Homo sapiens: one gene and its partners. The protein of the gene in region 3 purifies or fractionates together with the protein of the main gene of each other region. This does not show direct contact. Each region holds a gene or a part of one and is shown on either strand. Other genes may lie near its edges. The genes, in order: PBX1, MEIS2 and FAM222A.

The links.
Region 1: the proteins of FAM222A (region 3) and PBX1 purify together in Homo sapiens (affinity purification with mass spectrometry; 2 studies listed by BioGRID and IntAct, with this or other methods). This does not show direct contact.
Region 2: the proteins of FAM222A (region 3) and MEIS2 purify together in Homo sapiens (affinity purification with mass spectrometry; 2 studies listed by BioGRID and IntAct, with this or other methods). This does not show direct contact.

The regions. Positions count from the first base shown.
Region 1 is NC_000001.11:164,807,068-164,810,719, forward strand, and holds part of PBX1 (pre-B-cell leukemia transcription factor 1), read left to right. Parts: intron 1-474; coding exon 475-610; intron 611-3,652. UniProt on the Homo sapiens protein: Transcription factor which binds the DNA sequence 5'-TGATTGAT-3' as part of a heterodimer with HOX proteins such as HOXA1, HOXA5, HOXB7 and HOXB8. Binds to the DNA sequence 5'-TGATTGAC-3' in complex with a nuclear factor which is not a class I HOX protein.
Region 2 is NC_000015.10:37,090,410-37,094,061, reverse strand, and holds part of MEIS2 (homeobox protein Meis2), read left to right. Parts: intron 1-331; coding exon 332-481; intron 482-3,652. UniProt on the Homo sapiens protein: Involved in transcriptional regulation. Binds to HOX or PBX proteins to form dimers, or to a DNA-bound dimer of PBX and HOX proteins and thought to have a role in stabilization of the homeoprotein-DNA complex.
Region 3 is NC_000012.12:109,716,748-109,720,399, forward strand, and holds part of FAM222A (protein FAM222A), read left to right. Parts: intron 1-3,652.

The DNA of each region.
Region 1 (3,652 bases), on a different chromosome or scaffold from region 3:
CCAATATGATGAAACCCCATCTCTACTAAAAATACAAAAATTAGCTGGGTGTTGTGGCACGTGCCTGTAATCCCAGCTACTCAAGAGGCTGAGACAGGAGAATCACTTGAACCCAGGAGGTGGAGGTTCCAGTGAGCCAAGATCACACCACTGCACTCCAGCCTGGGTGACAGAGTGAAACTCCATCTCAAAAAAACAAACCAAGATGGCCCGAATTTTGAAACTTTATACTCCTCACTACTCTGCAAAAATATCTGTGACCACTCTTCTGTTCGGTGCCCAGATGGTACACAATGAAGTATTGAGCAAATGCTTTTAGCGTTGGTTTTGGCATCCAGCCCCTTTTGGTAAATCTGCTCCAAATTCACCTTTTGCTCAAAAATTTGTCTTCTCCCAGAAGTAGATTTATTCTCTCCCATTTTATATTTATTTGGTGTGAGCCTTTTTGTTATTATTTCCTTTCTCTTTACAAAGGCGGAAGAGACGGAATTTCAACAAGCAAGCGACAGAAATCCTGAATGAATATTTCTATTCCCATCTCAGCAACCCTTACCCCAGTGAGGAAGCCAAAGAGGAGTTAGCCAAGAAGTGTGGCATCACAGTCTCCCAGGTAAGCAGCACCTCAAAAGCCTCAGCCTGTAGCCTGGCCATGGCGGGGCCTCCGGGGCAGGCTCTTAGAGGTCTTGCTTTACTGGACATTCATGCCTTGCAAGTTCCATCAGCTATAGCCTTAAAATATCAAGGTAAGCACTTGATGTGTATGCGTATAAGTGAGTTTCTAGGTAAGTACTTGGCAAAACTTGAGAAGAACCAGCAGAAGGAAGAGAAGAATAAGTAGAGTACAATGTAAAAACAGGATTAGGGTTCTTCCCATCGAGCACTCCTTTGCTTCAAATGGGTGAGGTGTCTAAAGTGTACTAGGAAAGTTATCTGCATTCCTCATGCTGTTTTTTCAAATTCAGTCAATTCCTTAGCCATTTTTTGCCCAACCCAGGAACTTTAAGAGTCAGTGAATGGAACTAGTTGTTATATAGCCTTTTAAATGAAAGAACTTAAATGTCTCCTCTTGATGTGCTGACTCTATAACTGATGGGAGTGTAGGAATTTTAACATGTCACTGCGATTACATTGGAATGGTGAACAAAATGTCACTGAATGCCCCCTTCCCCCAAAGAGCAATAACCATAACAGGTGGTGTCTGATGACTTGGAAAGATACATGACATAAAATTTTTATAGGCCTAGAGTTTTCAACACGAATATGAAGCAGAGAAGTAGGCAATAATTATGTGTACGTGTATTTTGTCCACTCAAAAGATCCACCCAAACTTCTTATTCAGTCTGAACCTCAAATACCACCACTGGTTTCTAATTGAGAACCATAGTGATAATTCTGAAATCTATCGGAGAAGGTTTTTCTTAGAATTTTGTCACATGCAGGAGAATTAAATGTACTGATATTTCCATTAAAACTGGGGAGGGGAGGGAGTAGTGAAGGCTACTGTAGCGAGAAATTTCACTTACCATTTTTCAAATGAAGTAGATGCTCTTTTATATAAACTAAGCATCTGTACCTCCTTGAATTGAATCCTGACTTCTGTTAATCCCTGCAGGGTGCTGATCCCATCAACCTGTGTTTAGCTGTACAGAATTAGGTCCAGTCAGAATATAGAGCTCCACAAAAGTATTGACAATGAAGGGACTGTCCAAGCCTTCCCAACAAACTAAGATGATTTTACAGCAGCAAATATCCTTGAAAACATTCTTTCAGATAAAGCAGAATGAATTGACTCCTTTTTAACCTGGGCCTTCCTTAGGTGCTTTGACCCAGCTGGAGGTCATTTTTAGTCTTGACAGTTCTGGGAAACGGGAACGTCAGCGGTCAAACTCAAGTAGCCTAGTTTTTTCTAGGGCTGTCACCATTCTTATCCAAATCTAAACCCCTTTTCCACAAAAAAGGGAATTAATGCTTTTTGATACTTGCTACATGTTTGAGGAATGCTTCTAGGTATGGACCACAAATATGCAGCAAATATCAAATCACTGAATTTTATCATGGAACCTTCTGCTTTTAAAATATAATTAAATTACTACTGTCTGAATTCCAAGTGTGGAATTCAGAATTTCAACTTCCTGTTGAAGGTAAAAGGAATTCTCCTGGAGGTAATTTGTAGTATAGCTGGATACAAGTTAAAATCCTGATCTGTTCCCGCAACCTTCACTTCCTTCATTATGGAAACTCAAGGTACAAATAGTGTGTCCATTAAAATCCTTATTTACATATTGTGTCACCTTTCCCTTTCCTCTGTCCATGCCAAAGTCATGCCATTCTTTCTTCCCCATCACATCTGTCTCTCCCCAAAGCAACTAAGCTACCATTGCTAAACAAGTCCAATGGAAGACAGTATAATATGATGTCATAGAAGGAGCATTAAGCAAGGAGCCTATTTTTGACAAGAGTCAACTGTGGGATCCTAGGGAACTCACTCTTTCTTTTTGGATCTTAGTTGCCCCATTTACTAATCATGGTTTGTTGGATCACATGATTTATTAAATCTTTCTCCTAATTCCCAAAGCCAGGGAATACCTCTTGGGCTGTATCATTATTGTCTTTTTTTGAAGTCACAAATTCTTTTGAAATCTACTAAAAGCTATTGATTTCCCCCATGACCCAAAACAAAGATATGTTGCCCATACACCCAAATCCATCTGAAATCCGCCTATTGACTGTATCTCCTCAGATCCCTAAAGAGCCCTTTTTCTATACCAGAGCTACTCTAAGTGTGATCCACAGAATGCAGCATCAGCATCCCCTGGGAGCCTGTTAGAAATATAAATTCTTGAGTGTCACCCTAATTCTGAATCAGAATCTTTGAGGGTGAAATCTATAATAGAAATTTGTTTTAACAACTTCCCCATGAACACTTAACTTTGAAAAGCAATGTTCTATATGCTTTATCTGAGTGATCTTTTCCATGCTCACAGCTACAAATAATACCTCCATTTGAATACCTAATGGAACTTCTCCCCTGCAGCACCAAACTCATAAATTTTACTTCCTAATGGACTTCATCATGGCTCTGCCCAGAGGTTCTTCAAAATTAACTTGTTCAAAATGTGAATCAAACTCTTCCCATAAAACCTACTATTCTTTCTGTATTTCATGTCTCATTCTGTGTCTGTTATCTATACATCCCTAGTGCCTAACGCGTATTAGGCCCTTAGTCCATGACTGTTGAGTAATTAGTTCATTCATGATAACACTCATTTTATACATTGTCCAGATCATTGTCTGTTGGACAATGCAGGAAGTCCCTGAACTGACCTAGCACCTTCCTACCAGTTCCATTGTTGTCATTTAGAAGGGTATCATTCCCACAACATGTCCCCTCTTTACCCCCTTCAGCTCATATTTTTTTTACATATAATTGGACCTCAGGTATTTCTTCTTCAAAAGTCCTCTGAAATTATCTTCATCTTTTTCCCTTTTCTTTCAGCTTGTGCAGTTATCTGAGAAAAAAAATCTCCTTACCTTTTTTCTTCTTTTCCTATCCCATAAATCAAAAAGCAACCATAATTATGACTGATTCCTATGAATAGTGAAAGTTATGTCAAGAAAAACATAAATTTCAAAGTGAAACTAGATATGCAGT
Region 2 (3,652 bases), on a different chromosome or scaffold from region 3:
GTTGTAATGTTTTGATGTTATTATCAAATCAGATTTAATTCCCTGGACTCCCACTCTGAACCCAGTTATTTCCAGTCCTGTTTCTTTCTCTCTCTATTGTAACTTGTTGCTCAGAGAAGTCTCTGGAGAATAATATCTGCTGCAACAATTACTCTATTGTTTCCTTGCCTTCAACTATTACACCCTTTAATTAGAGTTAGTTTGGAAGACATCACACTGTTGCTCTTTGCAAATGTAACCTTGCAACCTGGTATTTTTCCTTTCTAAAAATGAAACAAAACAACAACAACAACAACATGAGCTAAACCCTCCACCATGACCTTCGTTCTAGGTCCACGAACTGTGCGATAACTTCTGCCACCGATACATTAGCTGTTTGAAGGGGAAAATGCCCATCGACCTCGTCATTGATGAAAGAGACGGCAGCTCCAAGTCAGATCATGAAGAACTTTCAGGCTCCTCCACAAATCTCGCTGACCATGTAAGTCTGCTAGCCTTTAGCAATCTTTTAAGGCCACTGGGCAAAGCATTATTTTAACCTTGTTTTAACATCTAGCTCCACTGATTTAGTTTTCTTTTTAAATGACTCCGTCTCTTTTGGGGTCTTTTCTTCTCTTTCTTGCTTTCTCTGCCATACCCTTCATTTTCATTTCTCCTTTCTTGGACCCCCTCCTATTTATGTTGAGAGCCAAAAAACCAGAGTTGATAGAGTGATTTGTGCTCTTAATGTGTAAAGTTTTCTGGATTTGGTGACTTGGGTGTTCGCAAATTCTGTTTGATATAGTCACCACTGTGTTTTCTGCTTTCTTAATTTTGTGTAATCAGTGCAGCAGGGATAGAAAGAAGCAAGACAGTTAGCTGGACTGGTCTGGAGAGAGAGGACTGAATGAAAGAGAATTGAGTGAGTGCTGATTTCCTAGTATGTCACAGAGATGACAATTCTGAGAATTATTGGCAATCTTGCACTGCATTCGAAATAAAAGGGGTGAACAAACACATTACAATTCTCAGGGCTTTTGCTATAGAAACTTATTGTCAGAATAGGGACTTATTGCCAAATGCCTGAAGCATCTTCATAATAAAAGACAGTAACCTTGATGAACCAATTATTAACAATGTATTACAGAAAGCTGAAGGGAATTATGATTGAGTAACCATAGGTTAGTGGTTGAATTTTAACACTTTAACAGTTGGTGAATGAGGATGGAGAGTATAGTAAGAAATGACTGTGTATGTCAGGCCAGGAAAGGAGATTTCTTTCTATTCTCTCTGTTTCTAATCCTATTTTGGAACCAATCTAGTGAGTCTGATGCTAAAAAAAAAAAAAAAAAAAAAAAAAAAAAAAAAAAAAAAAAAAAAAAAAAAGCATATGTAGTGAGACTGAAAATTTGAAAAAGAAGCAAAGAGAAGAAAGATTGCAGCTGGTAGGAAAGGCAAGAGTGGCGAGGTTAAAGAGTGGGTGTGAACAGCAGTTTTATTTATAGGAACTCAAGCCTGGAAATGGGGGACAGGGTGTCTATAGATTACATTCAGTTGAACTCACAGCCTAAATAATATAAGCTGTAGTTTAATAACTTTGTGGCCGAAATATTAATTTGACACTCCGTGTGAGTTAAACAGGCATTAAGGCTTGAAGGCAGTTTGTCCCTACCTCCCATCCCAATTCCTGACTGGTATGAGAAATGAATTGGGATGCCTTAGTATAAACCTTCTATGAGGTTCTTCTCTCCCCTGCTCCAGACAAAAGTTTTGAAAATATGCAGTCATAGATTTTCATAATTAACCTTTGCACTTGTATGGGAAGCCAGCCTAAGAACAAAAGTTAGAAAAAGTCTAGAAAAGAAAACCGCAGTCTGGGATATCCAGTTCTGTGACAGAATAAATACTGCGGTGTTGAAGGCTCCTATTCTTATCTCTTTACCCTTACCTTTTTCCATCATGGTGAGGGAATCTTTGGTGATCTCCTTTGTATATTGAGTGAATGTAATGAAATCAAAAGGATGCAGCAGTGGTTATGGAAAGTTTATTTGCTGATCTGTGGCTCCACAGTGTGTTGTGGTCCATGAGGCATGACACTACCTAAGAAATATTTACATTTGTTGTTTTTTGTGTGTTTATTTTCATTGTTTTCTGTTTCTATATTTATATTTATTCACATTATTGGGAGACTGGGGAGGGATCTATTTACATGGTTTGTAAAATGAGAGGTTCACAGTTCTCGGAGCCAAAAGCTTTTCTCATGATATTTCTAGGAGTACCTACTACTTAGTTTTCTAAAACAGTTTCTTGGCAACTCTTTTTCCAGTGGATGTATACAGCTAGACCATGTTGATGTTTACATAGAAAAGATAAGATAAAATAGGCTGTTTAAAGTATTGGCTGATAGACAATATCAATTTATGAGACTATTGTAATATTTAAATATCCACTCAAGAAGGAAGTTGTACCTAAGAGGATAGTGCTTTAATAATTTATCAATCATCATCTTTGGATAAAAGAGTCAACTGTAACATTTGTTGCTCTCCTTTCAGGCCCCCAGTCAAGTAAATATGACAACTGATTTATTTTGAACCCATGAGGGCTTGCCACTTCATTGGGTGTCATAATTTAAAGCCTTTTATTTCCTAGAGATCTGAACTATAACATTTTTACTTTAGCCCCCTGCTATTTGTTTTGAAAGGAAGCAATAATTTGTTCCACCAGCACACCAAGTAGAAAACGGAGAGATTTGCCACAGACTTGTATTTTATGCAGGGACATGAGAGAAAACCTTGGAGAGTTTTCACCATTTTTGAGACTTTTGTACCATAGGTGTATTGATTGTATTCATGTCCAGGCTTCCCCCTTCAAAGCAAATCCTCTTATGCTTTTCAGCCTCTTCTACAAAGTTGCCTTCCTTCAACCCCCTAGCCAAACACAAAGTAAAAATAACAAAGAACCACTACCTGAAAAGTGGTGTGAGTGGGACATTTTCAGCATGTAAATGTGCCCAATTTGAATCTTCAGGTTTATTTTTCATTTGCTTTGATATGCATATTTAATACATTGCCCCAGGCTGGATCTCATTTGGTGAACACTGGTGCAGGGGTGATGATGAGCCACTTCAGAAAGGCCCAGACAGCGCGTTGTTTTCTTGTTTTATCTGTTGGCCCACTATTCTGATCTGAGCTTCCTCTTGGTTTTATTTGCACATGAAATGCTGAGAGCATTTCAACTTATTGGCTATGAATAATGACAGCTAAAAAAGAAGTGTAGTTTAATTTGTTGTATGCCAAGGTTTCTCTTGTGGAGGTGACAGTTTGTGACAGCTGTTTGACACCCCCAAAACACATACACCTCTACTCTTATTAAGTGGTATCCAGCTTCATTGTGTGTGTGTGTGCATACTCGTGTGTGTGCATGTTTAAGGAAGGAACATGCAAGGAGAGAGAGAAAAGCAGAGAGAAATGCATCAGAAGCAAAATATTAGGTACCAATATAGTTTCAGTATTCTTTAAAAGAATTTGAAAATGTAAATAAATAAAAGTAATAAATATAAATATCTTCAAAGCAAGTATATTGGCAGACTTAAGAATAAGTTTTATATATTATTAGTAAATCCTGTTCACATTTCATAAAGTTATATAAATAATTTGATATAACAGATGCATTA
Region 3 (3,652 bases):
AGGCTGTCAGAATTGGGCAATTCCTTCTGTTCCCTTCCCTCATCTCCCTGGGCTTGGCACTCAGCGTGCCAGACGATGAGCAGGAGGGAGTGCCAGCTTTCTCAGCATCTCCCTATATGCCAGGCGTTTTACATGATCTCAGTTACTCCTTGGAGTGGCTCATACGCTGTGGCCCATTTTATAGCTAATGAAACTGAGGCTTAAACAGAGGAAGTGATGGGCTACAGGTGATCAGCCAGGCAGCTGCAGAGGTTCGGTCCTGAATTGCCCTCCTGGCTCCAGAGTCCTTGTGTCTTACCACCTCCTCCCATGGGGTTTGGGGGACACTCCTACTTATTGGACAGGGGTCCCTGCAGGCATCAGAGGCTATCAGCCATGGAGGGGGAGTCTGGCCCCACCAAGATGCTTTGTCCACACCAAAAGGCAGATTTGAATCCTCTCTTCCTATGACCTACAGGTCAGCGTTGAGTAGATTAACAACTTCCGCCCGGCCTTGTGGTCTGTCTGGTCCCCTCACCCCCAGGACTCCTTTCTCCAGCACTAGGGGAAAGAAGGTGTAGCTTGAAACTCGCTCCTTGTCACCTGCCCTTCTGGGCTTGCTTGGAGGGAGGCGGTGAAGCTGCCCCTGGCCGCCCCAGGGACCTTCTTGGGATGTAGATGGAGCAAGGGCAAACTAGTAGATGAGGTTCCTGACCCAGCCTGAGGGTCAAAAAGCCCTAGAGGAGAGGTGGCACATGAGTCATGAAGAGGACAAATAGGAATGTGCCAGACAGGAGTGAGAAGACTGTTCTGGGTGGCCGGAGTGGCCCTGGAGCAGCCAGTGATGTGTGTGGGCCCTCGTGCCTGATGGGGAAAGGGGCAGCCGTGAGTGGCTGTGTCCTGGAGCCTTAGGTGGATAGGGAAGGTTTAAGCAGGGCAGAGGATCCATTGATCTCCTTTGACAAGGACAGTAACCCTGGACATCTCTTCCCGTAAGCGTGGAAGTGGCCACCTCGGTTCTGGGGGCAGTCTCCTCTCTTAAGGTTGGCCCCACCCCCACTAATCCTTCTCACTTATCTAATTCCTGTAAGCTCGTCCATCCCCTGTCCCTTCTGAGCCTTAGGGCTGCTCTGGACTAAACTGGGACTGGGCTGGACTGCTGAACCCCCTTGATGAGAAACTTGAGGCGCCCTGGTGATGGGCAGTGGCTCCTGATTAGGTGCCAGGCTCTGGCGTGGGTTGGGCCTGGATCGTACTCTCAGCCCGCCGCTTGCAGGCTGTGTGACCTCGGGTGAGTACCTTTGCCTCTCTGAGCCCCAGTTTACTCATCTGTGAGAAGGACCATAGCACTCACTGTGCAGGGTCTGGTGAGGATTCAGGGAGGGCCTAGCACAGCACACAGTATACAGTAAGCACTCAAACGCATGTTGTCATGGCTACTGTTACCTCCTCCTCAGAACGGAGCCTTGAATGACTCAGTCCCTTGGAGCCAAAGGTTGAAGACCCCATTTGCAGGGAGAGGCCCGAACTCTACCAGCTATCTCTGCCAGGGGCTTCTCTGTCCACTGAGGCCCCCACCCACCCACCCACATGGTGAGCACCGGTGGCTCTTTTCTGAGCTTCTGCGGGGGCTGGGACTTGGCCGGGGGTCCCTCCCCAACCTCCCTCCAGCCCCCTCTGCCTTCCCATCCCTCACAAACCGGAGGAAGGCAGCGAAGCAGCTCATATTCATGAACCGTAATTCAATCAGGCGGCGATTCCTCTGGGCTCGGGGCGGGGGTGAGAACGAGGAGGCGCGCACAAAAGGGCCGCTTTATTACCTCCCGCGGGCCGGGAATTGCTGCTCTCTCCCAGCAGCGGCCGGAGCCGCTTTATTGTGTTAACCCATTTGCGTGTCAAGAGCTATTGGGCGCTTTCTCTGCCTGTGCGTTGCGGGCCGCGGGAGGAGGGCTGCGGTGCCGGCCGGTCACCTCCGCGGGCGCCGCCCGCCGCCCTGATTGGTTGCTAAGTGATTTGCATCCAAGGTAATCACTTTTATCTCAGAAGGATGTCGACTATAATTATAAGCTACTGACATCTTTTGAAATCTGCCTAATGACTATTTTAGTCTGCACGGGCTGGGTGTAGGGAGGGAGATTCTGGAAAGGGTGGAGGCTGGGAAGAGGGATGGATTCCTTCCACCTGGACCCCTGATTGCTTAGTTGAGAAATATCTGAGTACCTACTGCATGCATCAAACAAAAGATGGGGTCTCTGTGATGGGGGGCTTGCATCCCTGTGGGCAGAGTTAGTGCCACTTCAGAGATGGGGAAACGGAGACCCTGGGGAAGGGGCGACCTGCCCAGACCACACAGCCAATGTGCAGCCACCATCTGGGTCTCTCTGACCCCAAATTCATGCCCTGACCACTCCAGTGGTCACAGTCAGGAATCATGTAATCATGCCTGGATACAGGTCACCAGACTAGTACCTTCCAGAGTTTACGTCATAACCCTAAGAAATGCACATGCTGGTACCACCCCCATTTTGCTGAGAAGCAGGGGCCCAGAGAAGGTATTATACTTTGCTGCCCGAGGTCACACAGCCAGGGAGTGGCAGAAGTATGAGGTTCATTGGCAGCCAGAGATGGGAAGGCAGAGGCGGGGTTCCAGCTTCCCACTCCTCTTCCCACCCACTCGTGGTTCCATTCGGTAAAACCAGGCTTTAGGTAAAGACTGAGCAAGGACACCCTGTCGCCCGTGTCCCAGTGGTCAAGTGATAAGAAATCAGATGGCCCACAGCCTCTAGAGGGAGTAAGATGAGTCTGCAGTTAACTGGAATTCTAGACAGGGCTGGAGCAGGGCTGGAGGAGGGAAAACCTGCAGCTGGTCCTGGAGGGCTTCCTGACAAAGCGGGCTGTGCTCTGTGCCCTGAGGACTGAGTGGCTCTCCCCAGCATGGAGTAAATGGGGGTGTCTCTGGCAGAGGGAGTTTGGAGACCCGGGAGCATGACCAGGAAGGGCAGGGGGAGCTTATAAGATGGTGGAGGTGAAAGGGAGATTAGGAGGGTGTGCAGGGGGCATCGGGTGCTGAGCTAAGGGTGCTGTGAGGCCCTGAGGAAGAGGGAAGCCAGTGAAAGCATCTGAGAGGCAGGGGCCAGCTAAGATCCCAGTGCCTTAGAGGCCAACAGAGAGCTTGGGAGTCGCAGACCTGGGCTGAAACCCGGTGAGAGAGAGCACCTGCACTCTCACTGGCTGTGTCCTCAGAGAAATTATTTTACCCCTCTGTGCCTCAGTTTCCTCTTGTTCAGGAGAGTCTCAACAGCTTTCTCATGGGCTTGTGGGTGGGGTGAGCTTGCATGTGCATAGTGCTTGCAGGGGGCTTAGCTGAGCCCCTCAGAGCTGGGTGGGCTGGGCTTGAATACAGGCCTGGGCCAGTCCTGGCCCCACAGCAAGCCAGCATCCCAGCCGCAGCAGCTGTTTGGGGCCCTGGGGGCCCCTGCTATTGTGCAGAGGGCACAGGGGACAAAGGCCTGGGAGGTCAGGGGGTGAGGCCGAGACTAGCTGTGAACAGGCTCCCGGGGATGGGGACTTAATGACGCAGAACTTAATGACCCAGAGTCTGTGGGGAGGGGGGCCTCCCTTGGAGGAGGAGGGAGGTCCAGCCACCAGCTGTCTGCTCCAGGATTCGCTGCCA